Linked DNA regions of Homo sapiens. The protein of the gene in region 1 purifies or fractionates together with the protein of each later gene. This does not show direct contact. Each region holds a gene or a part of one and is shown in the gene's direction. Other genes may lie near its edges.

What was found. Proteins that work in one complex are often made in the same cells at the same time.
Region 2: the proteins of RAB8A (region 1) and WDR81 purify together in Homo sapiens (co-immunoprecipitation; 2 studies listed by IntAct). This does not show direct contact.

The regions. Positions count from the first base shown.
Region 1 is NC_000019.10:16,128,889-16,131,811, forward strand, and holds part of RAB8A (ras-related protein Rab-8A), read left to right. Parts: intron 1-665; coding exon 666-716; intron 717-2,923. UniProt on the Homo sapiens protein: The small GTPases Rab are key regulators of intracellular membrane trafficking, from the formation of transport vesicles to their fusion with membranes.
Region 2 is NC_000017.11:1,727,704-1,731,203, forward strand, and holds part of WDR81 (WD repeat-containing protein 81), read left to right. Parts: coding exon 1-923; intron 924-2,676; coding exon 2,677-2,784; intron 2,785-3,051; coding exon 3,052-3,242; intron 3,243-3,364; coding exon 3,365-3,500. UniProt on the Homo sapiens protein: Functions as a negative regulator of the PI3 kinase/PI3K activity associated with endosomal membranes via BECN1, a core subunit of the PI3K complex.

The DNA.
Region 1 (2,923 bases):
CTCTCCTCTCCAGAACCTCCCACATCATGGGGATGTATGTTGGGATCACGCCTCCCGCCATCTCTGTATGTCCCCTCCTCAAGGCTGTGACAGCAGCTCAACCCTTGGCTGTGCTGGGAGATGAACCTGCTCCCGCTCCCAGCCCTGCCAGGCAAGGACTCCGAGTGAAGCTTGTTTGGCCACAGAGCTGCTTGCCTTTTTCCCTGACCATCAGAAGGGAGGCCAGAGCTGACAGAACCTAGGAGTCAGAGACAAAGAACTGGGCACTCCTAGATCCTTCTGGATTGGTCGGTTAACTGCTGGGTTCCTTTGGACAAGTCACTTGGCCTCTCTGAGCCTCAGTTTCCTCTCTGGCCAACTGAGTGTCGCCCCATCTCACAGGGCTTAGGGGAGGTGGCACATGCGTAAAGTCCCGTCAATGCTAAGGTGCTCTGCGGAAGTGAGAGTTGATGTCAGAGAGTAAGGGTGGGTGGGAGGCAGAGGGAGCCGGGGAAGGATGAGCTGGGGCCGGACAGGCCAGATGAACCCACTGCCAGAGGCGGGCATCAAAGGGCCAAATGGGAGGCCCACGCCTGGGAAGCTGTCTCACCACACCCGCTGTACACGGGCGGCTGAGGACTCAGGGTCCTGCCATCCCAAGGACTCACAATGTGCTTATTCCACAGGCATTTTTCACTCTCGCCAGAGATATCAAAGCAAAAATGGACAAAAAATTGGTGAGTGTGTGTCCTTCCGAGATCCCCGGGTGGATCTCTGGGATCCAGCCATCGTCGTTAGCAGCAGTGATATGACGTGCCCTAGATCCTGCTTTTTAGGGCCCAGCCAGACCCCATGGGACATTGCTGGGAAAGGGGGAAGAGTTTGCAGGTGTGGCTGGGGCATCAGCATCAGGCAGTGCCAGCCTGGGGACGCTGCCCAAGCAGACAAGGCCGTGCCCGGTGAATCCCCAGGCTAGCAGGGAGCACACGGCCTTTTCCATTCCACTCAAGGGCCAGAAAGACAACATGGTGTGCAAGGACAGAGAGCCATGGCTCGGAGAAAAGCTTCCTAGGTCGCTTGGGCAGGGCCAGGGCTGGTGTCTGATAACTGCTGGCTCATCGTCTTGACAAGCATGGCAGATCAAGAACCTGCCCCCGCTCCACCCCAGCCCCAGATGCTACAAGTTGTGACAGCTCTGCAACCTTCATTGTGTCCCAGGGTTCTCTGAGGCCTCCAGGGAAGTCTGCATGAATCCCTACCCATCTACCCTCTCATTCGTTTCTTGCTTTTTTTTTTTTACCACGTTAGCGATTTCCTAGTCCGCTGCGCTCAGTATCAATGGTGCTTTCTTGATGGAATCAAACACTTCCCTGTACTTTGGGGGCATTTAGTGCCTAAACACCGTAGTGACCCTTCCTCCCTCGCCCTGGTTCCAGCAACTGCCCTTTCCCGGCCATGTTACATTGGTTGTCCAATCGAGGAGCACACGGCGCTCTATTTGTGGGTTAAGTCTGGTCACTTGAGAATGCACATAAAATACAAAATGCCGTTCAAGTTTTACATCTGATGTAAGCAAATCTGTTTTGTAATTCTAAGATGCGGTGTGTTGAACAGTGAGGCATGTGATTGATTTAATAGCAGCTCTTTGGCCATTAAATTAAAATGGGAAACAGTTCATGGAAACCAGTGCACTGACCAACAATAATTTGGGATTTTCTTGCAATTTTTTTTCTTCAGTATAATGGTCAAGGTCTGATTCTTTTTTCTTTTAGTTTTCTTATTAGTTAAAAAAGAGATTTTTTTTTTAGAGTCTCACTTTGCCACCTAGGCTGGAGTGCAGTGGCACCATCACAGCTCACTGCAGCCTTCAACTCCTGGGCTCAAGCAATCCTCCCACCTCCGCCTCCCAAGTAGCTGGGGCTATAAGCACACACCACCATGCCTGGCTAATTTTTTTTCTTTTTCTTTTTTTTTGAGAAGGAGTCTCGCTCTGTTGCCCAGGCTAGAGTGCAATGGTGCAATCCCTGCTCACTGCAACCTCTGCCTCCCAGGTTCAAGCGGTTCTTCTGACTCAACCTCCCGAGTACTTGGGATTACAGGCACATGTCACCACGCCCAGCTAATTTTTGTATTTTTAGTAGAGACGAGGCTTCACCATGTTGGTCAGGCTGGTCTTGAACTCCTGACCTCAGGTGATCCACCTGCCTCGGCCTCCCAAAGTGTTGGGATTACAGGTGTGGGCCACCCCGCCTGGCCATTTTTTCTTTTTTAAGAGGCAGGATCTCACTTGTTACCCAGGCTGGACTCAAACTCCTGGGCTCAAGCAGTTCTTCTGCCTCAGCCTCCCAAAGTGCTGGGAAGGGTATGATGGGGTGGGCAGATAAGTGAGAGAGTGGTTGGAAGGGGTGGTATATAGCAGATGGAAAATAGATCTGTTTCTGAAAAACGAATTATCAGTTGTAAGAGAATTGGATGGATGGGTAGAAGATAATGGATGGATGGTTGGTTGAAAGGGAATAAATCGATGGTTGATTTGTTGGAAGGAGATGGTTGGATAGATAGATGATTGGTTTGTTGGTTGGTTGGAAGGGGATGGATGAATGGTTGGTTGGAAGGAGGTGGTTGCTTGGAAGGGGATGGATGGATGGTTGATTGGTCAGAAGGGGTGGTTAGAAGGAGATGGTTAGTTGGAAGAGGGTGGATGGGGGGAAGGAGATGGATGGGTGGATGGATGGTTGGAAAGGGATGGATGGATGGTTGGTTGGATGAGGTGGTTAGAAGGGGATGGATGGTTGGTTGGTTGGTTGGAAGGGGATGGATGGTTGGAAGAAGATGGATGGTTGGAAAGGGATGGATGAGTGGATGGTTCTTGGTTGGAAGGGATGGATGGTTGGTTGATTGGTTTGTTGGTTGGAAGCAGGTGGATAGACGGATGGAAGGGAAT
Region 2 (3,500 bases), on another chromosome or scaffold:
CATCACCCCTGAGGGCCTGGAGATCCTGCTGCCCTTCGTGCTCTCACTCATGTCCGAGGAGCACACAGCTGTGTACACGGCCTGGTATCTGTTTGAGCCTGTTGCCAAGGCACTGGGCCCCAAAAATGCCAATAAGTACCTCCTGAAGCCGCTCATTGGTGCCTACGAGAGCCCCTGCCAGCTACACGGCCGCTTCTACCTGTACACGGACTGCTTTGTGGCCCAGCTGATGGTGCGGCTGGGCCTGCAGGCATTTCTCACTCACCTGCTGCCCCATGTCCTGCAGGTGCTGGCGGGCGCAGAGGCCTCCCAGGAGGAGAGCAAGGACCTGGCAGGGGCTGCTGAGGAGGAGGAGAGCGGGCTGCCCGGGGCCGGGCCTGGCTCCTGTGCTTTTGGGGAGGAGATTCCCATGGATGGGGAGCCTCCTGCCTCCTCGGGCCTGGGGCTCCCAGACTACACGTCTGGCGTCAGCTTCCACGACCAGGCTGACCTCCCTGAGACAGAGGACTTCCAAGCCGGGCTCTATGTGACTGAGTCTCCCCAGCCCCAGGAGGCTGAGGCTGTGAGCCTGGGCCGGCTGAGTGACAAGAGCAGCACCAGCGAGACCTCCCTGGGTGAGGAGCGGGCTCCAGACGAGGGGGGTGCCCCCGTGGACAAGAGCAGCCTTCGATCAGGTGACAGCAGCCAGGACTTGAAGCAAAGCGAGGGCTCCGAGGAGGAAGAGGAGGAGGAGGACAGCTGCGTGGTGCTAGAGGAGGAGGAGGGGGAGCAGGAGGAGGTCACCGGGGCATCTGAGCTCACTCTGTCTGACACGGTGCTGTCCATGGAGACGGTTGTGGCCGGCGGCAGTGGGGGAGATGGAGAAGAAGAGGAGGAGGCACTGCCTGAGCAGTCAGAAGGCAAAGAACAGAAGATCCTCCTTGGTAAGTTCCCAGGTCTGGGAGGTGTTGGTCAAAAACACCTCCTGCTGGCCGAGCACAGTGGTTCACGCCTGTATTCCCAGCACTTTGGGAGGCTGAGGCGGGCGGATCACAAGGTCAGGAGATCGAGACCATCCTAATAACAAGGTGAAACCCCGTCTCTACTAAAAATACAAAAAAATAGCCGGGCGTGGGGGCAGGCACCTGTAGTCCCAGCTACTCGGAAGGCTGAGGCAGGAGAATGGCGTGAACCCGGGAGGCGGAGCTTGCAGTGAGCCGAGATCGCACCACTGCACTCCAGCCTGGGCGACAGAGCGAGACTCCATCTCAAAAAAACAAAACAAAACAAAAAAACAGCTCCTGCTTCTCCCTGCACACTGGCAGAGCACCTACTCTGTGCCAAGCAGTGGATCGAGCCAGGACCACCGGCAACACAAATGTAGGCCTGCCTTCACAGAGCTCACACCCAGCAGACGAGATGCCGCAGTGCAGACAGTCTTAAGCAAGTGTATTATGTTAGTGCGATAAAGAACATGGCTGCATTCCTAGGAGGGAGTGCAACATGGAGCTTTTCGGCCGGGCGCCGTGGCTCACGCCTCTAATCCCAGCACTTTGGGAGGCCGAGGCAGGAGGATCACTTGAGGTTAGGAGTTCGAGACCAGCCTGGCCAACATGGTGAAACCCCATCTCTACTAAAAATACAAAAATTAGCCAGGCGTGGTGGCGGGCACCTGTAATCCCAGCTATTCAGGAGGCTGAGGCAGGAGAATTACTTGAACCCAGGAGGTGGAGGTTGCAGTGAGCTGAGATCACACCACTGCACTGCAGCTTGGGCAACAGAGCGGGACTCCGTCTCAAAAAAGAAAAAAAAAATGGTGCTTTTACATCTAGTTTTCAAGGGTCAGAGCAGGCTTCCTTAAAAGGAGAGACAGTTGAGGTTCAAGGAGGAGTAGGAAGAAGGTAGACAAAAATGGGCAAAAAGAAAGTCTGAAGGCTGAGGGAACAGCATGTGTGAGGCTCTGAGGCTGTCATGTTCCATTAAAGAAGAGAAGCGGGGGACCGGGCGCGGTGCTTCACGCCTGTAATCCCAGCACTTTGGGAGGCTGAGGCGGATGGATCACAAGGTCAGGAGATTGAGACCATCCTGGCCAATATGGTGAAACCCCATCTCTACTAAAAATACAAAAACTTAGCTGGGCATGGTGGAGGGTGCCTGTAATCTCAGCTATTTGGAAGGCTGAGGCAGGAGAATCGCTTGAACCCGGAGGTTCAAGGAGGAGAGTCAGGGCGGTGGAAGGTGGAGGTTGCAATGAACTGAGATTGTGCCATTGCACTCCAGCCTGGGCAACAGTGCGAGACTCTGTCTCAAAAAAAAAAAAAAAGAAGAAGAAGAAGAAGAGAAGCAGGGAAAGGCCGTTATGGCGAGACCGAGGGAGTGGAGGGAAGAGAGGCCAGAGGGAAGGTGGCCAGGGCCGGGCCAGGCCTTGTTAAGGAGTTTCAGAAGACCCACGGGCAGGCTAACTTCCTGCGGGTCGTGCCTGTGGAGAGGAACCTGCGGCAGCCAGAGTCCCACAGGCCAGGGCCTGGGCACCTCTGCCGCTGTTACGTGGAGGGGGTGGTGTGGGACAGCCGGCCCGGGCTGGGCTCTTGGCAGAGCTGCAGCCGCAGGTGGTTGAGTGGGGTGCCGTGGGGTGGGGTGGGAGGGGTGATGAGCCCCTGTTATCTGAGGAGCTCAGGGCCTGCTCCCACCCCGCAGATACAGCCTGCAAGATGGTCCGCTGGCTGTCTGCCAAGCTCGGCCCCACAGTGGCCTCTCGCCACGTGGCCCGGAACCTGCTCCGCCTGCTGACGTCTTGTTATGTTGGTAAGGAGGCCTGCGGTCAGTGCTGGAGATGAGGCTTTCTCCCAGGCCCTCTGCCTAGCTTCAGCGCTCTCCGGCGGGGATCCTTCCCACCCCTCCCTCAAACCACCCCCCGGCCAGGTGCTGGGTCCCAGTCTAAGTGCCAGCCTTGGGTAGGGCCAGGCTGGGCCCCCAGCTAGAGTGAGCTCAAGCGGCCAGCACAGCCCTGCAGGGCCAGGCTACCCCCGGCCCTCCACTGGCGACTCAGGGCTGCTGGCCCTTCCGTGGCAGGACCCACTCGGCAGCAGTTCACAGTGAGCAGTGGCGAGAGCCCACCGCTGAGCGCCGGCAACATCTACCAGAAGAGGCCGGTCCTGGGCGACATCGTGTCAGGGCCTGTGCTCAGCTGCCTCCTCCACATCGCCCGCCTGTATGGGGAGCCTGTCCTCACCTACCAGTACCTGCCCTACATCAGCTACCTGGTCAGTCGCTGGTTTGGCAGGCCCGGGGCTGGGAAGGCTGAGGACCTGAGGGCCGGCCCGGGCTCTCTTGGTGCCAGGGGGTCTGTGGGGCTGCCCGGCCCTCATCTGCTCGGTGGCTCTAGGTGGCCCCAGGGAGTGCCTCAGGCCCCAGCCGACTGAACAGCCGTAAGGAGGCGGGGCTGCTGGCCGCGGTGACGCTGACTCAGAAGATCATCGTGTACCTCTCAGACACCACACTCATGGACATCCTGCCCCGGA